Linked DNA regions of Homo sapiens. The protein of the gene in region 1 interacts with the protein of each later gene in a biochemical or structural test. Each region holds a gene or a part of one and is shown on either strand. Other genes may lie near its edges. The genes, in order: RAB7A, CHM, VPS39 and PLEKHM1.

Region 1 (7,027 bases):
TGTCACTCGCTTATAGACAGACACATACTTAATCACAATATTTGTGAGGATTGTTTCAGATACTCTGGTGCTGAAATTTGCTTCCTGAAGTCTGGTGTCATTTGTCTTTGTGGGTGGCCCCACAATCTAGCCTATTTCTTCTGGCACCCCTTGCATACATGCTCCTGGTGCTCTGCCTAGCATTCTCCCAAGGAATGAATGTTTTGTCTCTCACAGATATGGGACACAGCAGGACAGGAACGGTTCCAGTCTCTCGGTGTGGCCTTCTACAGAGGTGCAGACTGCTGCGTTCTGGTATTTGATGTGACTGCCCCCAACACATTCAAAACCCTAGATAGCTGGAGAGATGAGTTTCTCATCCAGGCCAGTCCCCGAGATCCTGAAAACTTCCCATTTGTTGTGTTGGGAAACAAGATTGACCTCGAAAACAGACAAGTAAGTACCAACGATGATAGATATTGTCACAGACACCTGCTCCCCAGGGGCCTTGTGAATTTGGAGGGTTCTCTGCTAAGCTCACATGGCTCTAGGAGGTGCTGGTGGGAGTCTTCATTACCATATGCCAGCCCTTCAGGCCAACTGCCTTTAAGGACCGGGACCCAGGTGACCTGGGTTAAGTCCCCATCCTGCCCCCAGCTGGCTGTGACTTTGGGCCATTGTCTTGGCTGTCTCAGCTTCACTTCCCTTTCTGCACTTTGAAGGAGGGAATTCGGTTTTGTCATTCTCAGTAGTGCCCTCCCAGTACCTCCAGGCCATGCCTGGATCTCCATGTGTGCAGAATATTGCTTTGGGCTTTGAGTAAAATTGCTGTACTGTAGTTTCAAATACCATTTCTGTTGGAAACATAGACTCTTTGATTAATTACAACTAGGTTTATTTCTGACCACAGATCTTTTCTTAAGTGACTTAGTCCTTATCTCTTGGCTGAAAATGGGCTAGGGGTTGGGGAAGGAATGAGAATGTGTGAGTGGCATAGGTGACATCACACTAGCAGTAATGGTGAAGGGACTATAAACCTTAAGACCAAGCTGCTGGGCATTTCCTGTCCTGGGATCTCTGAGGTCCCAGTAAACACTCTTCATTTCTTCCCGGACTGGCTTCTTACTCCATTCACAAATGGCTTTTAAGTATAACTGAGGGTCAGAAGGTATGAGCTGTAGACCGAGACAGGCTTTGAGCTCTCTAGCTGAATCCTAGCTATCCTGAGCATAGCTAGCAGGACAAGTTTGGACGGGTCTGCAGGTCTCCTCCAACACCCTCTTTCCCCATGTCTGTGTCCTCACCTGTACTACCTGTAGACGAGGGGCCATGACACTTCCTGGGGAGGATGGAGTCAGTGCTGGCTGCTTCTGTCATGAGCCTATGTGCACCCTGCTTCTTCTTTCAGGTGGCCACAAAGCGGGCACAGGCCTGGTGCTACAGCAAAAACAACATTCCCTACTTTGAGACCAGTGCCAAGGAGGCCATCAACGTGGAGCAGGCGTTCCAGACGATTGCACGGAATGCACTTAAGCAGGTGGGTCTCCCACAGCTGACCAGCCCACTCTGGTGATGCCTGACCACTGACCCAGTCCCTGCCTGGCCTCCTGCCCTTAATCTTCTTCCCTAACCCACTCTTTTCTGTATAGCCAGAATACCCTATGTGTTCATCTGGGAAGGTTATGACATGTTCTGCTTAAGCTTCCAGAAATCCCACTTTGGGGGGAATAATATAAAAGATGCAGAGGCTGTGAAGTCTGAGGCTGCCCTTCTTTTACTAGGCTTGTTCTTATTTTCTTTGCTGTGATTAGGAGATCAGGTCACTGGGAGACCCCGAACAGATTGCTGCTTCTATTTAAGGAGGAAATAAACTTGAATATGAATCCCAGCTCTGCTGCGTACCAATCGTTATATCTAGTTTGGGCTTAAAAAAAAATTATGGCCGGGCACTGTGGCTCATGCCTGTAATCCTAGCACTTTGGGAGGCCAAGGCGGGCTGATCACTTGAGGTCAGGAGTTCGAGACCAGCCTGGCCAACATGGTGAAACCCCCTCTCCACTAAAAAATACAAAAAAATTAGCCAGACCTGGTGGTGGTCGCCAGTAATCCCAGCTACTCGGGAGGCTGAGGCAGGAGAATTGCTTGAACCCAGGCGGCAGAGGTTGCAGTGAGCCAAGATCGTGCCACTGTACTCCATCCTGGGTGACAGAGTGGGACTCTGTCTAAAAAAAATTAAAAATTAAAATAAAAAAAATTATATCTGAACTTCTACCCCCTCACCTGAAAAATGGGAATACCTGCTTTTGCAGGGTGATTATGAAGATTAAATGAGACAGACTCTTCCAGCTCTCACATACTGACTGGTAACTTTTTTCCTTAGGAACAGTTAAGTAAACAACACAAAGAAGGAAGAAGATGTAGGAAAACTATTCAAGGAATATAATACCTAGAATTTCTTATTTACTGTTTCTGTGATTAGATACAACCACTCATGCGAGTTGAAAGTCTGTTTTGATGTACAGCTCTGTTAGGGGCAGTGGTGATTAAGGCAGGTCACGAGGCCTCATCAGACAGTGTCTGGGGGTGGTCAGAGGTGTGGCAGGTTTGGGAGGATGCATAGAACACTTGAAGCACATGGTGGCTGTGAAGGGCAAGGCAGATTCTGCTGACTCCAGGAAGCCGGCTGAATGAAGGTAATGGCTTTCAGCAGGACAAAGAGTTGTTTGTAATGGTTGCTCCAAGGACCAGGGAAATTCTGGCATGGGTGGGGTCTGCACTAAGTGTTCCAGAATGAAAGGGACAGATCTACTCAATGAGGAAATTGTTCCACCCAGAATGCCAGGAGAGCCCTCAAGTGGTAAGGAGCAGACCAAGATGCAGACTTGGCCACGCTTACCCCCAAATAATAATGTTTGTGTTTTTCTTAATGTTCATATAAGGGAATGGAAATCCAAATATGTGTAGGAAAGTGTTTCCCACCTGTTCCCTGTTGCCTGGCATCACTGTCTGAGTTTTTCTCTTCCATCACTACTGTCCCTGTTGTCTTTATGCTTTTATTTTTAGAGCTAGCCCTTAAGAAGTTAGATTGTTAAATCGGAGGGTGTATCTTATTGTAAGTCAGGGTGCCAGGTTGCTTTCCCCAAGGGGAATAACATTTCAGCAATGTGGGCTTGCTTTCTTCTACCTCCTTGCCAGCAAGCAATAGGTGTCACCTGTCACTGCTGACATTGCCGATCTTTGGGTGTGTAAATTGCCACCATCGTGACTACTGGTCCCTCTGAGTTCCCCTCCCTGGGGCTTAGCCATTTGGATTTTCTCTGCTGCACACAGCCGGCACACAGCACATGGTTGGGCCTCTCTCAGTTCTCATGAGCTGTTGGTGAATTGAAGTTAACTCTACTTGCATCTTAAGTGACTTTTCCAACTCTGTGGTCTTTTTAAGTCCTTTGAACATAGGGAAAAAGTAATTTTTTATTTGGTTATGTCATTTTAAGTTTCTATGTTTCCTGTGTCTACCTCAGATTTTTCTGTAATTCAGCTGGAATTTGTTTTGGCTTATGGCAGAAAAGAGAGACTTGCCTTTCCTCTCAAGAGAGCTCAGCCAGTTGTTTGAAATCATTCAGCTATGTTACACAAGCCGTTTCCCTCCCTGAATAGACCGTGGCCTGTGCTAAATGCTCGTATGTGCTGGGATCTGTTTCTGGTCTCTCCAGTCTGTTCTGGTGATGTCCATGCCATGTTCCCTTATCTGGACTGTGTTGATTTGACTGCCTGATGAGGCAAGTTTCCTCTTGCCACAGTCTTTTTTTTTTTTTTTTTTTTTTTTTTTTTTGAGACGGAGTCTTGCTCTGTTCCCCAGGCTGGAATGCAATGGCGTGATCTCGGCTCACTGCAACCTCCGCCTCCCAGGTTCAAGCGGTTCTCCTGCCTCAGCCTCCTGAGTAGCTGGGATTACAGGCATCCGCCACCATGCCCAGCTAATTTTGGTAATTTTTTAGTAAAGATAGGGTTTCACCATGTTGGCCAGGCTGGTCTGGAACTCACATTGTGAACCGCCCGCCTCAGCCTCCCAAAGTGCTGGGGTTACAGGCATGAGCCACCGCACCCGGCCTGCCACATTTCTTTTTTAATAATTTTGTTTCCACCATTTTCCTCTCTTACCTTCCACACCCCAAATAAAACTCTGTTGAGATTTTGATTGGAATTTTTTTCTTCAAGCCCACTGTTTTTTCCTCATTGATTGCAGTTTTGTTGTGGCTGTTGCATTAGTCTGCTCAGGCTGCGTTAACAAAACCCCACAGCCTGGGAGGGTCCAACAACAGACATTTTGTTTTCTCACAGTTCTGGAGGCTGGAAGTCCATGAGCAAGGTGCTGGCACATGTTTCTGGTGAGGGTGCTTTTCTGGGCTATCTTCTCACTGTGTCCCTCCCATGCCCTTTCTGCTGTGTGCACAGAGAGAGGACACATGAGCAAGGTGTCTCTGGTGTCACCTCTTCTTATAAGGACACGAATTCTCAGATCAGGTCCCCATCCTGCAACCTCATTTAACCTTCATTCCTTCCTTACTCCAAATACAGCCACCTGAAGGGTTAGTGCTTCAACACAGGAATTTTGGAGGAACACAAACATTCTGCCCAGCCGAGTGCGGTGGCTCATGCCTGTAATCCCAGCACTTCGGGAGGCTGAGGCGGGTGGATCACCTTAGGTCAGGAGTTCAAGACCAGCCTGGCCAACATTGTGAAACCCCATCTCTACTAAAAATACAAAAAATTAGCTGGCGTGGTGGTGGGCACCTGTAATCCCAGCTACTTAGGATGCTGAGGCAGGAGAATTGCTTGAACCTGGGAGGTGGAGGTTGCAGTGAGCCGAGATTGCACCATTGCACTCCAGCCTGGGCAACAAGAGCGAAACTCCATCTCAAAAAAAAAAACAAAACATTCCACCCATGATACTATTTTAGGTCTTGTTTCTGTTCCTTCAGTAAGATTGATTGATTCTTTTTTTTTTTAGAGACAGGGTCTTGCTCTGTCAGTCAGGCTGATACGCAGTGGTGCAATCATCACTCGCTATAACCTCCAACTTCTGGGCTCCAGCAGTCTTCCCACCATAGCCTCCTAAGTAGGTAGGACTACAGGCACACCCATGCTATAATTGATTTATAATATGATCCTTTGCCTTTCACAGTAAACATATTCCTAGGTACTGGTGGGAATATAAAATGTCACTATTTGTAATAGCCAAAAAGTAAGAACAACTCAAATGTCCATCAACTGGTAAGTGAATAAACAGGGCAGCTTATCCATGCATTCTAATATTATTCAGCTATAAGAAGGAATGAAGTAGTGACACATGCTGCCACATGGGTGCTAAGTGAAGGAAGCCAGTTGCAAAAAGACCATATGTTGTACGATTCCATTTCAGTGAAATGTCCAGCCCGGATGCAGTGGCTCATGCCTAAAATCACAGCACTTTGGGAGGCTGAGGCCGGAGGATCACTTGAAACCAGGAGTTTGAGACCATCTTGGGCAACATAGCAAGGCCTCATCTCTACTAAAAATTAAAAATTAGCTAGGTGTGGTGGCATGAGCTTATAGTTCCAGCTACTTGGGAGGCTGAGACTGGAGGATTGTGTGAGCCCAGGAGTTAGAGGCTGCAGTGAGCTGTGATCATGCCATTGCACTCCAGCCTGGGCGACAGAGCAAGACTCTGCCTCAAAAAAAAAAAAAGAAAGAAATCACAGTCCACTAGAAGAAATGGGGAAAATTAAAATAAATAAATAATGTTTAAAAATTAAGTGTCCAGAATAATAGGCAACTCTATTGAGACAGAAAGTAGATGAGTGGTTGCTGGGTCCAGGATGGTATAGAATGGGGGTGGGAAGGAACTACTAATGGGCATAGGGTTTTTTGGGGGGTGATGAGAGTATTTTAAACTTAATGTTGATGGCTGCCCAACTTTCTGAATATACTAAAAACCATTGAATTGTACACTTCATGGCATGTGAGTTAAAACCCAGCAAAGCTATTAGGAGTGCAATGGCACCATCTTGGCTCACTGCAACCTTGACCTCCCGGGTTCAAGCAATTCTCCTGCCTCAGCCTCCTGAGTAGCTGGGATTATAGGTGCTTGTCACCATGCCTGGCTAATTTCTGTATTTTTAGTAGAGACGGGGTTTCACCATGTTCGCCAGGCTGGTCTTGAACTCCTGACTTCAGGTGGTCGACCTGCTTCAGCCTCCCAAAGTGCTGGGATTACAGGCGTGAGCCACCATGCTCAGCCAAAGCTGTTATTTTTTTAAGTATGTATTCCTAGATGTTTTATACTTTTATAGTTATTGTGAATGGAATGATTTTTTTCCTAGATAACTTTTAATGAATAGAAACAGTTCCTGCTTTATCTCCAAATTCTAGAACAGTCACTGGCACACAAGTGCTCAGTGTTTAAGTGACATTGTTTTCCTGCACCCAAAAGTAGAATGCTGCTCCTCATTGGAAGCATGTTACTTTAGCAAAGTGCCACTAAAATGACCATAGTCCATGTGCTCTGATCACTTGTCACAGATGGTGATAAAATTCATTCACAGCTTCCTTTCTAGGCCTGCAGCATTTGGGAGACAAAACTCTGCTAAACCTTTGGAAGAAAAAAGAGACCAGAGGCCATTGGTCCCGAAAAGTGGATGGAAGATAGGGAGGTAGAAGGAATGTTACAGGCTGAGAGGGCAGCTCACACTCAGCTCCAGCCACTTCACCTCGTGCACACACTGGCTGAGGGTTGCCAGATGTTTGAGAAAAGCTAGAAATCCAGACCATTGTTAACCATTGGCAACTATAGGGAACATACAGAAAGCATCTGAACTGGATGTGGTAGAGCTCCCAGATCATGATCTGATTGAGAATGTCCATGAACTTCTGTCCTGATTGCTCAGTGCAGACTGCTGCTTCTTCTGGCAAGACTCCTCTCTTCACATTGACCTGGAGTTGTCACAAAATCTGTTTTTCTCTTGCTACTCCCCTGAGCATGGCACCTTCTGCCAGAGCGCTCCCTTAA
Region 2 (7,027 bases), on another chromosome or scaffold:
AAAATCGAATCCCTATGACAAAGTAGGTTATAATGTGATCCTACTGTCCCTGATTTGTGTGACATTATAAAAGGGGAAGTGAGGGAAAGGGGACTAAAGAGATGGGGAGGGGCTGTACACTGGGAGGTAGGGATAGGAGCAGCCTGAGAGGCTAGTAAGTTAAGTTCTTCCATTACTCTGGCTTGAACTATATCTGCAGTGGGTAGAAAGGTGAGGCAAGAGCTATATTCCTTGGTTCTTTCCATTTCCCATGAATCTGTGACCTGCCACAGCTGGCTTCCTTTAAGAACATCTCTGAAACCTGGTGAGGTCAGGGACCAGCTGCAGTTGAAGTATGTAAGAACTATGTACTTTACATTGGAGCCATGGCTTCCTGACAGACAATATAGGCCAGATGTTGTGAGAAAAAAAAACAAATAGTTCATTTGTTTGTTTATTTATAGGCAATTATAAGTCTCAACTATTGCTCAAATAAAGTAGACCATCAGAGCTTGGCCATTTGAGAAAATTTAAATATAGGCAACATCACTGCAGCTTAGTTTGCTGCCTATGTACAGCCCCCTTTTTTTTTTTTTGTGAGACAGAGTCTTGCTCTGTCACCCAGGCTGGAGTGCAGTGGCAAAATCTTGGCTCACTGCAACCTCCGCCTCCCTGGTTCAAGTGAGTCTGCTACCTCATCTTCAAAGTAGCTGGGATTACAGGTGCCCACCATAACACCCAGCTAAAATTTTGTATTTTTAGTAGAGACAGGGTTTCGCCATGTTGGCCAGGCTGGTCTCGAACTCCTGACCTCAAGTGATCTACCCACCTCAGCTTCCCAAAGTGCTGGGATTACAGGCAGCCCTAACGTTTTTATGTAGTGTATATTAGGGCTTACCAACTGTCATACACAATTTGGAGTCCTTGGTGGTTGCAGGTTTACCTACCAGAAAAGGAATAAAACAATTTATAGAGTGTTTTCCTTAGTAATATTTCAAAACCACAATTCTACTTGTTACTATTTTTACTGGTCTGTAAGACTATAAAATACTACTTTAAAAAAGAAATTTTCATTTAAAAAGCTTAATGCAATAAAAACACTGTGATCTATTTTGTTTGGAAGTTGACTGACAGCAAGCAATTATTTCCTGCGTGAGACTTTTGAGATTCATCAAGTCAATGGGAAAATTCTAAAACAATTTTCTTCTGGCAAACCGATTCTAAACATGGCATTGCATTGTCTTCATAACCATTCTCATATAGTAGGCATAGTAATACTATTTCCACTTTATATATGGAGAAACGTAGGCTCAGAAGTTAAACAATTTACCAAATATCATCAGTAGGACAGCCAGGATTAAATTAGGTCTGTAGACAATTAGCCTAATACTCTAGTTACTTGACAGACAGAATATTCAAATACCAATGAGCCTATCCACACCTTTCCTTCCATTCTTTCATTTCTTCATTATTGACCTTTCCCAATATGTAAATAATTTACAAACAAATATCACTACTGATACTAAAAAACACTACTGACTTATTCGTAAAAATGTCTAAACACCTTTATATTAGCATTTTCAATGCTTCTCAACATAGAAAGCAAAACAAACCTGTATTCCAAATACAGGCTTCTATCTAGATCATGATACTTTAGTTTTTCTATATGTTTTTATCATTATGTTATGATGCTCTTGTCCATAAAGAAAATAAAATTCAAATAACCAAAGAAAATACATGAGCTGGTTCTGAAAATGTGGCTTTCAAACAAAGATCCAAAGTGGTAAGCAAAATTGTCCTAAGACCATGGAATTATTAACAATGCATAGGATCACTTTCATATCCACAGTTACATTCCTGAGAATCAATTGATTTATAATTTTCATCTGCTAGTCACACAAGTTTGGTATTTAAAATGAGCAAGTCAATGTGCTTTATAAGTGTTGTGTGTTCTTGGAATGTCCTCTATAAGGAAAATCCCCTTTTGGATTTCTATTACCTATTTTGCCTTATAATTGCTGCTGCTTTCTAACATTTCTCAAACAGTCCTTCTATCAAGTAGACTCTGAGACCAGTCAGAATTTCCAAAGTTGGGTATCCAGTTTGGTGTATATCCATTATTCAGAGGACTCCTCTAGGTTTCCAAGGTTTGTGCTTTCCTTGAAAGTCTCCGAGTTAGCCTCTGGTATGGCACTGGATTCTGAAGCCTCTGGCTGTAAACTGTCTCCATCAAGGATAATGTCTTCAGGATTTGGTGGAGGGGGACAGAAATCTTCATTGGGGCAGATTTCCTGGAAAAGTGTTTCAGCCTGGCCAAGGAAGAAAAGATAAAATCGTTTTTGGAAATCGGTTTAAAATGTGTGTGCATTTCTGGCATTAACTAAAAAAAAATAAGTGTTTTATCCTTAAAAATTTGCTTAAACAGGCTACAGTACTTAATCAGAATACATGAACTTCCGTAAGTCTGTTTTCAGAATTCTATGACTTCTCCCTTTAATTCTATACATGTATTGAGGTCCACTCTTCAAGGATGGCAGTACCTCATCAGGTTCATTATCAAGTGTTCAGATTGTTGAGAACTGAAATACATTCATTCTATATATCAATAGAAATACAATTTCCTTAATATTGTTTATATGATTTCTTATAGAGCCTTGATATGGTTTGGTTCTGAGTCCTCACCCAAATCTCATCTCAAATTGTTATCCCCACGTGTTAGGGGGTGACTAGATTATGGGGGCGGCTGTTCCCATGTTGTTCTTGTGATAGTGAGTTCTCAGAATATCTGATGGTTTAAAAGTATTTAGCAGTTCCCCCTTTTCTCTTTCTCCTGCCACCATGTGAGATGTGCCTTGCTTCCCCTTCACCCTCTGCTATGATTGTAACTTTCCTGAGGCCTCCCCAGCCATGTGGCCTTGTGAGTTAAACCTTTTTTGTTTACAAATTACCTAGTCTCAGGTAGTATCTTTATGGCAGTGTAAGAGGCACTAGCATTGAGAATTGGTACCAGGAGTGGGGTACTGCTAAAAGATAACCTGAAAATGTGGAAGTGACTATGGAATTGGGTAACAGGCAGAGGTTAGAACAGTTTGGAGGGCTCAGAAGAAGAGAGGTAAATGTGGGAAAATTTGGAACTTTCTAGAGACTTGTTGAATGGTTTTGGCCAAAATGCTGATAGTGATATGAACAATGATGTCCAGGCTGAGGTGGCCTCAGATGGAGATGAGGAACTTATTGGGAACTGGAGCAAAGGTGACTCTTGCTATGCTTTAGCAAAGAGACTAGTAGCATTTTCTCCCTGCCCTAGAGATCTGTGAAACTTTGAACTTGAGAAAGATGATTTAGGGTATGTGGCAGAAAAAATTTCTAAGCAGCAAAGCATTCAAGAGGTGACCCAGCTGATTCTGAAAGCACTCAGTCATGTGTGTTCACAAAGAGATGCCTTCACATTGGAACTTATGTTTAAAAGGGAAGCAGAGCATAAAGGTTTGGAAAATTTGCAGTCTGACCATGTGGGAGAAAAGAAAAAACCATTTTCTGGGGAGGAATTCAAGCTGGCTATAGCAATTTGCATGAGCAATGATGAGCCAAATGTCAATAGACAAGACAATGGGGAAAATGTCTCCAGGGCATGTCAGAGATCTTCCCTAGGAGGAAAAATGGTTTAGTGGGCTGGGTGGGCCCCACTGCTCTGTGCAGCCCTGGAACATGGTACCCTACATCCCAGCTGCTCCAGCTCCAGCCATGGCTAAAAGGAATAAAGGTACAGCTTGGGCTGTTGCTTCAGAGGGTGCAAGCCCCGAGCGTTGCCAGCTTCCACGTGATGTTGGGCCTGAGGGTGCACAAAAGACAAGAGGTGAGGTTTGGGAGCTTCTGCATAGATTTCAGAGGATGTTAGGAAACGCCTAGATGGCCAGGCAGAAGTCTGCTGCAGGGGTAGAGCCCTCATGGAGAACCTCTGCTAGGGCAGTGCTGAAGGGAAATGTGGGCTTGGAGCCCCCACAAAGAGTCACCACTAGGGAACTGTTTAGTGGAGCTGTAAGAAGAGGGCCACTGTCCTCTAGACCCCAGAATGGTAGCTCCACTGACAGCCTGCACCATGCACCTGGAAAAGTCACAGGCACTCAATGCCAGCCCATGAAAGCAGGCACAGTGCCTATCCCCTGCAGAGCCACAGGGTTGGAACTGCCCAAGGCTGTGGGAGCCTAGCCCTTGTATCAGCATGGCCTGGATGTGAGACATGGAGTCAAAGGAGATTTTGGAGCTTTAAGATTTAATGACTGCCCGGCTGGGTTTTGGACTTGCATGGGGCCTATGGCCCCTTTGTTTTGTCCAATTTCTCCCATTTGGAATGGGGACATTTACCCAATGCCTATACCCCATCGTATCTTGGAAGTAACTAACTTGCTTTTGATTTTACAGGTTCATAGGCAGAAGGGACTTGACTTGTCTCAGATGAGACTTTGGACGTGGACTTTTGAGTTAATGCTGGAATGAGTTTTAAGACTTTGGAGGGCTGTTGGGAAGGGATGATTGGTTTTGAAATGTGAAAAGGACATGAGATTTGGGAAGGGTCGGGGCAGAATGATATGGTTTGGCTCTATGTCCCTACCCAAATCTCATTTGCAATTGTAATCCACAAGTATTAGGGAGGGACTGGTGGGAGATGAATGGATTATGGGGGCACTTTTCCCCATGCTGTCCTCGTGATAGTGACTTCTCACAAGATCTGATGGTTTAAAAGTGTTTGGCAGTTCCCTCTTTGCTTTCTTTGCTCTCCTGCCGCCATGTAAGACATGCCTTGCTTCCCCTTTGCCTTCCACCCTGATTTTACATTTCCTTAGGCCTCCCCAGCTATGAGGAACTGTCAGTCAATTAAACCTCTTTTGTTTATAAATTACAGTCTCAGGTGGTATCTTTATAGCAGTGTGAGGACAGACTAATACAAGCCCACATGTGATACTGGTATAGTCTAATTTAGCATATAGTAATTTTAACAAGTCACTGTTCAAATGAAGAAAACTCTTCACTGTTTGTTCAACTATTTGCTTTTTGATAGAATTTCCATTCCCTGGACTTTAAGGACTATAGCACTTGTTTAAGCTCATGGGTTTTGAAAAGATAGCCTCAGTAAAAATACTGGCTCTACGATTTAGCAGTTATGTGATTTGGGGAATGCTTTCTCAATTTCCGAGCTTTGGCTTCCTTATCTATAAAATATCAGAGATTAAGCCGACATATATGGTAGCTATTTTCATTATTACTAATAATAACATAAGTAAAAATGTCAAGATTTAAGCTGAACTTATTAGTATGACAGGGTAACAGAATAAAAAACCTTCAAGGGTATGTTCTTGGACATGCCAATTACTATAGACAATTTAAGTTTTTAAATACTTAATTGACAAAAAGTATATATATTTAAGGTGTACAAGGTCACTTGATATACACTGTGTAATGATTACCACAATTAAGTTAACACGTCCATCACCACTAATAGTTACCACTGTGTGTGTGTGTGTGTGTGTGTGTGTGTGTGTGTTTGTAGTAAGAATACTTAAAATCTGCTCTCTTGTCAAATTTGAATTGAAGAATCCTGTCATTTATGACAAGATAAATGAACCTGGAGGACATTATGCTAAGTGAAATAAGCCAAGCACAGAAAGACAAATATCACATGATCTCACTTATATGTAGAATCTAAAAAAGTTGAGGGTGGTTGCCAGGGGCTGGGGAGTGTAGAGCTGTTGGTTTAAGGGTATGAACTTTCAGCTATAAGTTCTGGGGATCTAATGTACAGCATGGTAACTATAGCTAACTGCATTTTTTATTATGGCTATTTGGAAATTAAACATTACAGATGCCTGTCTTTGCTCTCCATCCCGGAGACTCACCATACTCCTTTGCTAGAGACACGCAACCCCTGTAGAAGCAGGACCTAGATCAGACAAAGCCATTACCTCATACTTCCGTTCCCCTAATGGTCTTTTTGTCTTACATCTCTGTTTTTACTATCTGTAAAAGTTCTCCCTCCCTTTTATCTTTGGCATGCAAACAATCATCAAATTCTATCAATTTTATCTTCTATCTCTTAACTTCATCTGTTCCTTCCCCACTGACATAGCCCAGACATGCACCATCTTTCAACTAGACAACTACAATAGCCTCAGAATTGGACTGGTCTCCTTGCCTCTAGAGTTCCCCCATATAATCCATCTCCATGCCATCCTCAGATGGGTCAATGGAAAATAAAATTCTGTTTATTCCATTTTTGGCTTAAAATTCTTCAATGACTCCCCATCACCAATAGGATAAAATCCAAGATTCCTACTATAGAAAATAAAACCCTTCAGGCCTACCTTCTCTGATCTTATCATATACCATTTCATCTAGCCTCCATCTCTCAGACTTCTTGATTTACTAATACCTGTTTATTTGTATGAAACAATACACCATGATATTTATCTTTTACATCCTGGACTGGTACCAATGTTATTCTTCACATCCAGAATGTTTCAATTCTACTGTCTTTGATTTAGATGGAGAATTGCTACTCTTCTGTTATACCCCTCTCCGTAAGGTTCTCTGACTCCTAGATTGGGCTCATTTCTCCTTTCTGTTATTTCTAGACTTTGGATATATTAGTACATACGCCACACTACACTGTCATTTGTTTACATGCTTTTCTCCTTTACCTGACAGTGATTCCTCCAGGATGACAAATACTTTTAGTCAACTCTGGATCCTTAGTGCCTTGGCATAAAATAGAATGTCAGTAACATTTAATACAAATATTAAGTATAAATATAATAATTATTATTACTACTAATTCTTTTACTTCTTCTATGCTAGTTCCTCTGTGTTTGACACCTTGTCTCCCTTTTGCCTCCTCCCCATAGAATAGCTTTTACCCTAAACTCCAGTCTCTGTGGCTGGATCCCACACCACATACTTCCATATATCTTGTCATGCACCACCTGCCTCCTAAGATTAGCACCAGTTGCAGGTTGTCACACCACTCTTTCTTGTGTTCTACCTGCTTATGAAA
Region 3 (7,027 bases), on another chromosome or scaffold:
TGCTGTTTTCTTAGCCTTATCTTCTAATCATGGGTCACCATCTACTGTTATTTTATATATTTAATTATTATTGCCTCTCTCACTCCACATTAGAATATAAGTTCCCTCAGGGCAGTATCTTTGTTTTCTGCATTGCTATATCTGCAGTACCTAAAACATTTCCTGACTCAATGGGTATTCATTAAATATATATTTAATGAATAATGTTAATATGAATAGTAATAGCTTGCAGTTGTTAAATGCTAATCTGTATTAGGCTTTTATAAAATAAGACTCCATTTTACAGAAGAAAGACCTAAGGCTTAGAAAATTTAAGAAATTTTTCCAAGGTCACATGTCCTGTAAATCATGTCTGCTTCTAGAGCCTGGTTCTCAAACTTGAATGTATATTCAAAGCCTGTAAAAAATGCAGACTTCACATGTATATATGAGTATCTGTATGTCTATATATACATACATACCTATATTTTCCAGAGAAACAATGGAAAGATAAGTCAAAAATTACTAAAATGATGCCCATAGCAGAAGGGAGAAGAGAGGATAAAATGGACAATGATAGAAACTAGACTTTTCGTCGTTTTAGCTTTGGAACTACATGAATGTTTCATAAAAACAAATAAAATTTAATTTAATTTTATTTTATTTTATTTTATTTCATTATTATTTTTTGAGACTGAGTCTCGCTCTGTCGCCCAGGCTGAAGTGCAGTGGTGCAATCTCAGCTCACTGCAACCTCTGCCTCCCAGGTACAAGCCACTGTCGTGCCTCAGCCTCCCGAGTAGTTAGGATTACTGCCACCCACCACCATACCTGGCTTATTTTTGTAGTTTTAGTAGAGACGGGGTTTCGTCATGTTGGCCAGGCTGGTCTCAAACGCCTGACCTGAGGTGATCCGCCCACCTCGGCCTCCCAAAGTGCTGGGATTACAGGCGTGAGCCACTTTGCCCAGCCAACAAGATTAAATTTTAAAATGTAAATTTCAGGGTACCACTTCAAAGCCATTGAATCTGAATCTCCATGTGCAGGGCCCAGGAATGTGCATTTTTAATAAGTCCAGGTGATTCTAATGCAGCTAATTGGGGGCTTATGCCCAGATGAGAAGTACTGTTATTTGCCATGTTACCCAACGAAGGGAAGTGACTACTATCTTACTTATCTTTGTGGTCCCTGCAGTGGCCAGCATTGGGCCAGAAATGGAATTTATTACATGAAGTTGGACTGCATTGCACTGTTGGAAGGAGCTCCATTAGGGTAATTATGAGCAATAGGGCCTAGCCCTCCTTCTCAGGAGGAATTAAGTCCAACCTTGTGGCTCAGGGTTAGGCCGTCAGGAGTTTTTTAGGGCTGATACTGCTTTGCTTATGTGTGCGTTTTGTGTTTGCTTAGTATGTCTCACTTTCTGTTGTGTGTTACTGTATTGAGTCTCAGAAGGCACTGTCCATCCCATGCTGCGCGTGCTCTGCAGGCTTGTCATCCTCTGTGTTGTGCATGCACAGCTTTGTTAAATAACGTGTCCTAGAGAGTGGAGGACCCAACATGGGACAGGTCCTCTGGCTAATGGCACATGTAATCAATCAGGTTGATTTAAAAGTTTACAGAGAATTTAATCCATCGGATTGATTCCCTTTTATGACCAGTAGAATAGACATTTTATTTTTTTAATTAATTTTTTTTTTGGAGGCAGAATTTCACACTTGTCACCCAGGCTGGAGTGCAATGGCGCACAATCTCCACTCACTGCAACCTCCGCCGCCAGTGTTCAAGTGGTTCTCCTGTCTCAGCCTCCCTAGTACCTGGGATTACAGGTGCTCACCAGCACACCTGGCTAATTTTTTTTTTTTTTTTGAGACAGAGTCCTGCCCCGTCACCCAGGCTGGAGTGCAGTGGTACGATCTCAGCTCACTGCAGCCTCTCCCTCCGGGGTTCATGCAGTTCTCTTGCCTCAGTCTCCTGAGTAGCTGGGATTACAGGCACACACACCACCATGCCTGGCTAATTTTTTTTGTATTTTTAGTAGAGATGGGTTTCCACTGTGTTGGCCAGACTGGTCTTGAACTCCTGACCTCAGGTGATCTGCCCGCCTTGGCCTTCCAAAGTGCTGGGATTACAGGCATGAGCCAACCACACTCGGCCTAATTTTTATATTTTTTAGTAGAGACGGGGTTTCACCATGTTGGCCAGGCTAGTCTCAAACTCCTGACCTCCAGTGATTCGCCCACTTCGGCCTCCGTGCCCGGCCCCTAGACATTTGACTTTTTAAAATGTTTTGTCATGTCTTAGTTTGGGTTCACAAGAAAAAAAAAAAGTAAATTAAAAAATCTATTGGCAAGAAACATTTCAATAAAAATGGAAAATAGACTCTTGAATGTCATGTTTAGGAATTTGACTTCATATTTTGGTAGTGTAGCTTCACAGGATTTTTTAAGCCCCAGTGTGACAGCATCAGAGATCTGCTCTAAGATAACTGACAGCAAATGCGAGAGAATGCATGGAGTGAATGAGACCAGTTGAAGGTGTCACAGGGGTCCCCAGAGAGACTCTATAGGAGGAGGCTGTCATGAGGTACCATTACAGGTAGAATTGATAGACCCTGGCCGACTTGGGAGGAAGCTGAGGCTATTAAAAAAGATAAAGAAAAGCAGGAACTGGCAGGGATTTGGGGGACAGAGTGGAGAGAGAAGGATGGGGAAGATGATGAACATTATGTTGGCCTTTTGTTTTGGTTGTAGATTTTTATGTATGTTATGAGTGGATTTTTAAAAAATTTCCACTTCATTTTATTTATATCTGAAATATCAGTGGGTGGCCTAAAAATCAACTTTAATATTGCTAAATTGCTTGATATCATGATATCTATAAAGTTCTAAATATAGTATCTTTTACAAAACAAATATTGCAAAATGAATTCTTTTATTTTTTCATGTTCTGCTGCAGCATAAATCTCCAGCCTTCATTAGAGCTGCTGTTATTTCTGATTTCAACATTTTTTTTGTGTGTGACCTGCCTTTCCTTTAAGACCCCAAATCAAAGAAAATAGAATCACTCTGTTTTTCTGGATGACTAAGAACATCATCCTGGAGAAATACTATTGATCCTTTGGATAAGGAATGTAGGTGCTGACCTGTTTTTATAAATATAACTACTGCCATTCAGACAACCTTTGGCTGACACCCATTTTTTTTGACATGGGTGCCTTAGTAAGTACATCACAGCATGTGGTTGGGAATCAAGACAAATTGGGGTTGGGATCCCAACTCTGCTGCTTGCCACATGTGTGACTCTGGAAAAGTTATATATTCCCTAGGCCTCAACTTCCTCATCTATAAAATGGGGATTTGAAAAAAGGACTTACTTCAAGGGATAGTTGTGAGGATTAGTGAAATAACAGATGCGTTTAGCATTTCCTGGAACACAATACATGCTCAATAAAAGTTATCTATTTGTACCATTATCCAAGATTTTATTTTACAGAGGTCAAGAATCAAGAGAGTTTATGAAAGGAATGAGTGACCTTTATGTTATCAAAAAGCTAAGGAAGTATCTGTACATGCTTACCTTCCTTGAATGATGTAATATGGGTCTGTCAGGGTAATTATTTAAACTCTTTCTGAGCCTCTTTTTACCTAGACCAGTGCCTCCCAAAATGTGGTCCTTGAACCACCAGCATCAGCATCATCTGGGAAGTTGTTAGAAATGAAAATTCCTGGGCCTACTTTTAAACCTACTAAATCAGATGCTCCGGGGTAGAGCCTAGCATTCTGTATTTTAACAAACTCTCAAATAATTGTGATACACTAAAGTTTAAGAACCACTAGCCTAGACCATCTTTTAAAATGTACAATTTGGCTGGGCACAGTCGCTCACCCCTGTAATCCCAACACTTTGGGAAGCTGAAGGGGCATTGCTTGCGGTCAAGAGTTGGAGACCAGATTGGGCAATATTGTGAGCCCTCATCTCTATAAACATTTTTTAAAAAATAGCTGAACGTGGTGGTGCATGCCTGTATTTCTCGCCACTCAGGAGGCTGAGGTGGGAGGATCACTTGAGCTAGGGAGGTGGAGGCTGCAATGAGCCATGATCACACCACTGCTCTCTAGCCTGGGCAACAGAGTAGAACCCTATCTTAAAAAAATAAAAGTTAAAAAAAAGTGTACAATTAAATGGTTTTTAGTACATTCACAGAGTTATGCAACTATCAGCACAATAAATTTTAGAACATATTCATCACTTTCAGAAGAAACTCAGTACCCATTAGTATTTACTTTCTATTTTCCCCCAAGCCCACCAGCCCTGGGCAACCGCTAATCTTTCTACCTCTGTGGATTTGCCTACTCTGGACATTTCATATAAATGGAATCACGTGGCCTTTTGTCTGGCTTCCTTCAGTTAGCATCATGTTTTTAGGTTCATCTGTGTTGTAGCATATATCCATACTTCCTTTCTTTTCATTGTTAGCTAATATTCCGTTATATAGACATGCCACATTTTGTTTATCCGTTCATCAGTTGGTGGACATTTGGTTTGTTTCCATCTTTTAGCTATTACAGATAATACTGCTGTGAACATTTGTGTACAAGTTTTTGTGTAGAATATGTTTTCATTTCTGTTGGGTGTGTAACCAGGAGTGGAATTGCTGGGTCCCAGGGTAACTCTGTTTAGCCTTTTGAGGAGCTGCTAGACTTTTCCAAAGTGGCTCTCCCATTTTACATTCCTGCCAGCAGTGTATGAGGATTCTAATTTCTTTATATTCTCATCAACACTTGTTATTAAATATTTTCTACTAGACTATCTTTTGAGATAATGAATTCTGTAAGCTTATTATGTTACGTCATTTATTTTCCTGAAAGTAAAAGCATTTAAAGGATGCCTCTTAGCTATTATTGCTGAGGTTGGATACCTGGTTTCACATTTGTACTTCCATTTTGTGATTTTATAAACTTTCATCATATTCTTTTTAGCAGAATTTAAAAATATATATCTGAAGATATATATCTTAATAAAAGTATATATAACAAAAAATAAAAATCATAATAATTTAATCTTAAAAATACAAAGCCCTTCTATCTTTTTTATTAGTTTAACATTAAAACAATTGAGCCAGGACATTTTTATCCTCTGATATGTCTAGCCTAGTAATTATTCAATAAATGTGTTTTTAAATGGTTGATTTTCAAACATGAGTATAAACATTTCTTAGCTTTGCAAAACACCTCCTATCAAAAGCAACTCATTTTCTTGACACATTGATTTCTGATTACAAGCCCCAGCTAAAAAAATAGGGTTATACTCAAGCTGATTGACCTTTCTCAAAGCTGGTTTTTTTTTGTTTTTGTTTTTGTTTTGTTTTGTTTTTCCAGAGGAATGGCTTCTTGTGGGAACCAAACAAGGACATCTTCTTCTCTATAGGATTCGGAAGGACGTTGGTAAGTGCACATTGCTCATGCAAAAAAATAAGTTTTAATAGTCAGCTAGTATACAACTGTGAAATCAGTTATTCCTGGACCATTAAAAGAGAGATTGAAGGTTAGAGGGAGCACGGTGGGAAAATGGGGAGAAGACTTGAGAATGCCTAGGGTTTTTCTCCTCCAAATTGTATTGCCCTACCTGCATTTGGGAGGTGAGGATGAATTGCTGGTTTACTTATTACTGAATTACTTATTACTGGTAGTGAGTCTCTAAGAAAAGAGGAGGTGGTTGTTTTCCTCCTCTTTTCTTTGAGACTCACTACCAATAATAAGAAATACTACTAATGGGCATAAGCTTCCTGTATATATGGTGTGGTGGTAGGAAAAAAAATTAGGCAACATCGATTTAAAATATCTTGTTGGCTTATGAGGGGTAGAACAAGAAGAGAGGACCAGGGTTTGCCTTCATGTGCACTTCCCCCTGGCTGCGTGACCGTGAGCAAGTTCTTTCCAACATCAGTTTTCTATAAACTCTCTGCCCCACAAAGTTGTTGGGGTGGATGCAATAATAGGCTCGAAGAAACTGTGAAAACTAAAGTTCTAATCAAATGTGACTGTCAGTAATGTAGAGTAATAACTAAAGTATTTGAAATGTATTCTGTTAAAGAGTGTTTTTTATTGGGGCAGAAAGTACCTCACTGCCCTTCCTTGTTTTCGTTTCTGTGCTCTCTTTATGGAGAATAGATGTGTTTAGGTATTATGCCCTGGAGCCACTCTACAGAAATCTGCAGTTAATTTCATACCCTTCAATATAATATATATTTCTCTGGTAAATAGCTTAAGAGATAGCTTAAGATAAATAGAGCTCTCTTGTGGAACCTGGAGCAAGGGTAACACTGGGGGAAAAAGCACCTTACTAGTGCACTCGGGAAAGAGAAGATATCCTGGTCAGTTTCTGCAGCAGGGTAAGAAAAGAAACCAGAGAACAAAATAGATAATTTATTTCATTTCTAAGTTTTTCAACTGTCCTCTAAATCAGGGTCAGCAAACTTGTTCTGAAAAGGTCCAAAGAATAAATATTTTAGGCTTTGCAGTGTTGTTACTACTTAACTCTGCCTTTGTAACATGAAAGCAGCTGTAGGCAATATGTAATGAATAGGTATGGCTATGTTCCAATAAAACTTTATTTACAAAAACATGCAAAGGCCTCAGTTAGGCCCTGGAGCAGTACATTGTTGATCTTTGTTTTAATGTTTTAAATTTTTAATTCTCATGGCCTGTGAAGTGGCTCATGCCTATAATCCCAGCACTTTGGGAGACTGAAGTAGGAGGAATGATTGAGGCCAGGAGTTCGAGGCCAGCCTGGGCAACATGGCAACACCCTGTCTACAAAAAATTAGCTGGATGTGGTGGCACGTGCTTATAATTCCAGCTGCTCTGGAGGCTGAGGTGAGAGGATCGCTTGAGCCCAGGAGGTTGAGGCTGCAGTGAGCTATGATCACACCATTGCTCTCCAGCCTCAGCAACAGACTTTGTCTCAAAAAAAAATTTCTTTTTTTAGTTCTCGGAGCCAAAATATTTGCGTTCTGTGATATTTGCCTGGTCTATAATTTTAAAATTAA
Region 4 (7,027 bases), on another chromosome or scaffold:
ATTGCTGGTGGGAATATAAAATGGTGCGGCCACTTTGGAAAACAGCTTGGTAGTTCCTCAAGAAGGGAAACATAGAGTTACACATGACCCAGCAAGTCTACTCCTAAGTATATACCCAAGACAATGAAACATGTCTACACAAAAACTTGTGTATAAGTGATCATAGCAGCACTATTCATAATTGACAAAAAGTAGAAACAACCCAAATGTCCATCAGCCGAGGAGTGGATAAGCCAAATGTGGTGGATCGAGACAATGGAATATTATTTGGCAATAAAAAGGAATGAACACTTAAACATGCTTATATAACATGGATGCACCTGGAAAACCTCCCACTAAGAGAAAGAAGCAGGCACAAAAGGTCACGTGTCGTATGGTTCCATCTATATGAGATGTCCAGAACAGGCAGGTGTGTAGGGACTGAAAGTAGGTAAGTAGGTGCCTAGAGCTGAGAGTGGCCAGGGGAAATGGGGATGACGGCTAATGGGTACGGGGTTTCCTTTTTGGGTGAGGAAAATTTGCTAAACTTAGATGGTGGTGACGATTGCCCAACTCTGACTAAGCCAAAATGTTTGAATTGGACACTTTATTTATTTATTTTTTTAGAGATGGGGTCTCATTCTGTTGCCTAGGCTGCAACCAGGCTGGAGGGCAGTGGCGTGATCACGGCTCACTGCAGCCTTGACCTCCCTGGCTCAAGCGATTCTCCCGCTTCAGCCTCCTCAGTAGCTGAGACTACAGGTGTGTGCCATCACACCCAGCTAGTTATTTTTTGTAGAGATGGGTTCTCACTGTGTTGCCCAGGTTGGTCTCAAACTCCTGGGCTCAGGTGATCCTCTCACCTCAGCCTCCCAAAGTGCTGGGATTACAGGTGTGAGCCACCATGGCTGGCCGAATTACATACTTTAAGTGGGTTAATTTTATGATATAAGAGCCATATCTAGATAAAGACTTAAAAAAAAAAAAAACTTCAGGCTGGGCACAGTGACTCACACCTGTAATCCCAACACTTTGGGAGGCCGAGGTGGGTGGCTCACCTGAAGTCAGGAGTTCTAGACCAGCCTGGCCAACATGGTGAAACCCCGCCTCTACTAAAAATACAAAAATTAGCTGGGCATGGTGGTGGGCGCCTGTAATCCCAGCTACTCAGGAGACTGGGGCAGGAGAATCGCTTGAACCCAGGAGTCAGAGGTTGCAGTGAGCCGAGGTTGCGCGATTGCACTCCAGCCTGGGCAACAGAGCGAGACTCCGTCTCAAAACAAAAAAACTTTAAAACAAACAACTGTTGTCTTCTTTCCCAACAGAAAAACAAGAGCTGGATCTCAGAGGATGACTTCTACCGGCCTTCCCGGGAGCAACCCCTGGAGAGTGCTTCAGACCACCCAATAGCTTCTTACAGGGGGACTCCAGGGTCAAGGCCTGGTCTCCACAGGCATTTTTCTCAAGAACCAAGAAAAAACTGCTCCCTGGGGGCGTTAGACCAAGCGTGTGTACCTTCCCCAGGAAGAAGGCAAGCCCAGGCAGCCCCATCCCAGGGGCATAAGAGCTTCCGGGTGGTACACCGGAGACAGATGGGTAGGTTACCAGGAGGGTCCCGGGTGGGTCCCATCTGCAGGGACCAGGCCTTTCAGAAGGCAGCTGTGAAGTTCTGTTTTCCATTGCTAAAGGGGTAGTGTGTTCCCACAAGTGTTATAAAACCTCATTCCAGAATGCCATCATAATCATGTTCATTCAGGGAAGCATTTCAGGAAAAGTAGTATATTGTCTCAAAACTGCCTACAGAGGACAAAAATACTGTTTCACCAGTCAAATAGGAAAATATTTTCCCTGAAAACTATGCAATTTATGATTATAGAAAACTCTTGATTCCACCTGTAGCTCAGAGCACATCCGGCCCCATGAAGCCCCAGGTGTTTTAAATGGTCCTTCCAAACGTGTTTACCCTCAGTAGTTGGTTTATGTAACAGCTCTGGGTGGCTTGATCAAATCTGCTATTTGTTTTGTTTGTTTGTTTGTTTTGAGATGGAGTCTCCCTTTGTTGCCCAGGCTGGAGTGCAGTGGCATGATCTCTGCTCACTGCAACCTCAGCCTCCTGGGTTCAAGCAATTCTCCTGTCTCAGCCTCCCAAATAGCTGGGATTACAGGTACCTGCCACCACACCTGGCTAATTTTTTTTTTTTTTTGAGGTGGAGTTTCCCTTTTGTTGCCCAGGCTGGAGTGCAATCATGTGATCTCAGCTCACCACAACCTCCGCCTCCCGTGTTCAAGCAATTCTTCTGCTTTAGCCACCCGAGTAGTTGGGATTACAGGCATGAGCCACCATGCCTGGCTCATTTTGTATTAGTAGAGACGGGGTTTCTCGAAATTGGTTAGGCTGGTCTCCAACTCCCGACCTCCGGTGATCCACCCCGCCTCGGCCTCCTAAAGTGCTGGGATTACAGGCATGAGCCACTGCGCCTGGCCAATTTTTGCATTTTTAATAAAGATGGTGTTTTGCTATGTTGGCCAGGCTGGAGGATCTGCTATTTGTTTAATGTCCTCCAGTGCTTCTTTTTTTTTTTTTTTTTTTTTCTGAGGCAGAGTCTTGCTCTGTCACCCAGGCTGGAGTACAGTGGTATAATCTCAGCTCACTGCAGCCTTTGCCTCCCAGCTCAAGTGCCTCAGTCTCTCCAGGAGCTGGGATTACAGACATGCACTGCCACACCCAGGTGATTCTTGTATTTCCAGTGGACATAGGATTTTGCCATGTTGGCCACACTGGTCTGAACTCTTGGCCTCATGTGATCCACCCACCTTGGCCTCCAAAAGTGCTGGGATTACAGGTGTGAGCCACTATGCCCGACCTCCCCAGTGCTTTTTACAGCAAGGTCAGCTTGATCTCCACACACTGAAATTCCAGAAAGCCTTAAATAACCATAACCAAATTTTTCAGTAACCTTCATGATGGGTTTCCTCTTCAAAACAAACAAAAAAAGTACGCTCTAGAATTGGTCTCTTTCTCTCCTCATTTTCTGTCTGCAGTGACCCAGCAGAGAATCCTGCCCAGCTCAGGGGGCCTTGCTGTGGGTAGCCCTGGCATGGGTTGTGTGGGTAGAGCCCGGTCTCCGGGCTGGCTTCTGTTAGGTTTGTCTGTTGGCCCGTGTGATGGCTGTGGTCTCTAACCTGCCAGCGAAGCTGTGCTTCAGGTCTAGGCCATCAGGTTTCTTGAGGGGCAGGGAACCCCCATAGAATAGTGTGAAATCTCCAAGGCTATTCCAGGCTGGCGGAGAGAGAATTGTGTGTCCTTTGGACACCCTGGTTGTTGTCACACCCCAGGCAGCAGGGAGCTGTGGGCAACATGTGATACATAGGCACTCACCTGCTCATTCATTCAGCAAATATTATTGAGGCTCTGTGATGTGCCAGGCACTGTTCTAAGTGCTGGAGACATAGCAGGCAGCAAAGCAGTGTCCCTGTCTTCATGGGATTTAGATTCTAGTAGAGGAGACGGGAAATAAAATTAACAAGTAAGCATAGTGTGTGGTCAGGTGGTCATAAGTGCTATGGAGGACAGTAAATCTCTACCTGTCTACAGAGGTAGAGAGTGGACCACTGCATATAGGATGGCCAGAAAAGCCCTCACCAATAAGGGGATGTTTGAGGAGATGCAAGGGGAGAGAGGGAAGGAGTCATGAGGCAATGTACGTGTTTCAAGCAAGGAGAACAAATGCAAAGACCCTGCGCTGGGGCTGCGCTTGACACATCCAGGGACAGTGGAGACCAGAGTGGCAGGAGAGAGGAGATGGGGGCGTGGCAGTGAGCGATGAGGTCAATCTGACGAGGCCTGTGGGCCACTGGAAGCACTTTGGCTTCAGCTAAGGGAGATGGCCGCCACTGTGGAGTTTTGGGGCAGAGGGACATGCTCTGACTTCCCTTTAAATGGGTCATCATGGCTCCTACGCTGAGGGACTACAGGGGAGAAGGGGAGAAAGACCAGTTAGGAGGTTGTCATCACAAGCCAGGCCAGAGATGACAGTGGGTGGGGTGCAGCTGGGGAGAGGCGGGGATTCCGGATGTGTGGAAGGCAGAGCCAATGGGATTTGCTGATGTAGGCTGCGAAAGAAAGAAAACCTGGGGTAACACCAAGATTTTTAGCCCAGGCATCTGGAAGGATGAATTTTGCTATTTGGTGAGATGAGGACCATTCAGGAGGAAGCAGGCTGGCAGCAGGAATTCATCCTGGACATGTCAGCTGAGATCCTAGTGGACATGTATGGCACAGGTGGATATATGAATGTGGATTTCAAGAACAAGGTCCAGGCTGGCGATAAAAATTGGGAGCTAAAGCCTGAGAGCAGGTAGAGTGGTGAGAAAGTGGCATCTACAGAGAGGAGACAAGGACCCAGGACTGACATCTGGGCACTCTAACGTGAGAGGCCACAGGGAGGACCGAGCCAGAGAGATAGAAGGGTGGGGGCGAGGGCTGAGGAGTGGCCTTGGGGTTTGGCAACGAGGAGGGCATTGACCATCTCAGAAACAGTGTCAGTAGAATGGGGGGAGAGAAGCCTACTTGGAGCAGGTTCGAGAAGGAATGGGAGCAGGGAAACTAGAGACCAAGAGGTTTTTTGTTTTGTTGAGACGGAGTCTCACTCCTCTGTCACCCAGGCTGAAGTGCAGTGGAGTGACCTCAGCTCACTGCAATCCCCTGCCTTCCCGGTTCAAGCCATTCTCCTGCCTCAGCCTCCCTAGTAGCTGGGATTACAGGTGCTCACCACACCTGGCTAATTTTTGTATTTTTAGTAGAGACGGGGTTTCACCGTGTTCACCAAGCTGGTCTCAAACTCCTGACCTCAAGTGATCCACCCACCTCAGCCTCCCGAAGTGCTGGGATTACAGGCATGAGCCACCGCTTCCGGCCAAGATGAACAGTTTTGATGCCTCTTCAAACAGGTTTTCTGTAAAGGGGCCTGAGAAATATGGTGGTCATTAGGGAAGTGCATGGAGACGAGAGGTGTTTCTAAAGATGGGAGAAATGACAGCGTGCATGTGTGCCGATGGGAGTCACCCCATAGAGAAGGAAGAAAGCAGTGACAGAGGAGAGGACTGCTCCTTGTCCTTGAGTAGTTGGCCAAGGGAGAGACCTCCTGCACAAATGGAGGGTTTGGCCTCACGCAGAAAGAAGCACACTTGGTTCATCCCTGGCAGCAGGAGGGAAGGCGTGGGTGTAGGGAACAGGGCGTGTGGAGGGGATCTTTTGGGTGCTCTTATTTTCTCAGTGAAATACAGGACGCAAGAGCAGCAGTGGACGGTGAGAATGGGGATGTTCCCATCCAGCTTTCAGGGTCCCATGTGATAGTGCCCCGTGGCTGGCCTGTGTTCTGGGGACAGTCACTGGCCACATGCACTGCAGGGCATCAGGCAGCAGAGGCTGCCTTGGGCAGGACAGAGACAGGCCCGCCAACTAATGTGCCCCTTTTTGCCTCTGCCTCCAGGACTGTCCAACCCATTCCGGGGTCTCATGAAGCTGGGCACCGTGGAGCGGCGGGGGGCAATGGGCATCTGGAAGGAGCTCTTCTGCGAGCTCTCCCCGCTGGAGTTCCGCCTCTACCTGAGCAACGAGGAGCACACCTGTGTGGAGAACTGCTCGCTGCTTCGCTGTGAGTCTGTGGGGCCAGCCCATAGTGATGGGCGCTTTGAGCTGGTCTTCTCTGGCAAGAAGCTGGCCCTGCGCGCCTCCTCCCAGGACGAAGCTGAGGACTGGCTGGACCGGGTGCGGGAGGCCCTGCAGAAGGTCCGGCCTCAGCAGGAGGATGAGTGGGTGAACGTGCAGTACCCAGACCAGCCTGAGGAACCCCCCGAGGCGCCCCAGGGCTGCCTCTCTCCCTCAGACCTGCTCTCGGAGCCCGCGGCCCTCCAGGGCACACAGTTTGACTGGTCGTCCGCCCAGGTTCCAGAGCCAGATGCCATCAAGGAGTCCCTGCTGTACTTGTACATGGACAGGACCTGGATGCCCTATATATTTTCTCTGTCCTTGGAGGCTCTGAAATGTTTCCGCATCAGGAACAATGAGAAGATGCTGAGTGACAGCCACGGCGTGGAGACCATCCGGGACATCCTGCCAGACACCAGCCTTGGGGGCCCATCCTTCTTCAAAATCATCACGGCCAAGGCTGTCCTGAAGCTGCAGGCCGGAAACGCCGAGGAAGCCGCCCTGTGGAGGGATCTGGTCCGCAAAGTCCTGGCATCCTACTTGGAGACAGCCGAGGAGGCGGTGACCCTGGGCGGGAGCCTGGATGAAAACTGTCAGGAGGTGCTGAAATTTGCCACCCGGGAGAATGGCTTCCTGCTGCAGTACCTGGTGGCTATCCCCATGGAGAAAGGCCTTGACTCCCAAGGCTGCTTCTGCGCAGGTGCCGATTTGCTCTGCTGCCACCCCCAGCCTGCCAGCCTCACTCCACCTCCTGCTGGTTCCTGATTTAGGCTCCCCACCCTTCTGCCTCCCCGCAAATGCCCCCATCCTTCCCCTAGGGATGAGGCCACAGATCAGGCTTGCCCTACAGCTTCTGCTCCTCCCCAGCCCCGGCTGGGGCCAGTGCCCTGCTCATAGGCAGTGGGCCCTGCTCACCCGTCCCTCTCCTGCCACCTCCCACTGATGGGCGGCAGGCTGGCTACTCACTGCGCTGCTCAGGGAGTCCCAGCCTGCTTCATTTTCTTCTTGCTCTACCGTCCTGTTCTTTCAGAGCAGGGGCATGGTTTCCTTCCAAATATTTCTGCTGCTTTTATAAGTGTACACCCTTTTTTTTAATTATAAAAATGGGCTCGTGCTATTCAGTGCTGTCCAATAGAACTTTCTGTGATGATGAAAATGTCCTAGATCTGTGTGTCCAGTGCCATAGCTGCGAGCCATGTAGTGCTACCAGGTGCTTAAAGTGTGGCTAGTGTGGTTAAGCAACTGAATTTTCTATTTAAATTCATTTGCATTTAAAGGGGACACACGGGGCTCTTGGCTGCTGTGTTGAATGCTGGATATATTGTTCCACAACTTGGT

What was found.
Region 2: the proteins of RAB7A (region 1) and CHM are reported together in a solved structure, tested with the Homo sapiens proteins (2 studies listed by BioGRID, with this or other methods).
Region 3: the proteins of RAB7A (region 1) and VPS39 form a complex in vitro, tested with the Homo sapiens proteins (one study listed by BioGRID).
Region 4: the proteins of RAB7A (region 1) and PLEKHM1 form a complex in vitro, tested with the Homo sapiens proteins (one study listed by BioGRID).

The regions. Positions count from the first base shown.
Region 1 is NC_000003.12:128,806,156-128,813,182, forward strand, and holds part of RAB7A (ras-related protein Rab-7a), read left to right. Parts: intron 1-216; coding exon 217-435; intron 436-1,387; coding exon 1,388-1,516; intron 1,517-7,027.
Region 2 is NC_000023.11:85,862,534-85,869,560, forward strand, and holds part of CHM (rab proteins geranylgeranyltransferase component A 1), read right to left. Parts: intron 2,289-7,027; coding exon 2,097-2,288; 3' UTR 1-2,096. UniProt on the Homo sapiens protein: Substrate-binding subunit of the Rab geranylgeranyltransferase (GGTase) complex.
Region 3 is NC_000015.10:42,198,292-42,205,318, reverse strand, and holds part of VPS39 (vam6/Vps39-like protein), read left to right. Parts: intron 1-5,357; coding exon 5,358-5,423; intron 5,424-5,652; exon of another isoform or gene 5,653-5,749; intron 5,750-7,027. UniProt on the Homo sapiens protein: Regulator of TGF-beta/activin signaling, inhibiting SMAD3- and activating SMAD2-dependent transcription.
Region 4 is NC_000017.11:45,452,717-45,459,743, reverse strand, and holds part of PLEKHM1 (pleckstrin homology domain-containing family M member 1), read left to right. Parts: intron 1-1,304; coding exon 1,305-1,575; intron 1,576-4,863; exon of another isoform or gene 4,864-4,913; coding exon of another isoform or gene 4,914-4,929; intron 4,930-5,471; coding exon 5,472-6,389; coding exon of another isoform or gene 6,390-6,454; exon of another isoform or gene 6,455-6,810; intron 6,811-7,027. UniProt on the Homo sapiens protein: Acts as a multivalent adapter protein that regulates Rab7-dependent and HOPS complex-dependent fusion events in the endolysosomal system and couples autophagic and the endocytic trafficking pathways.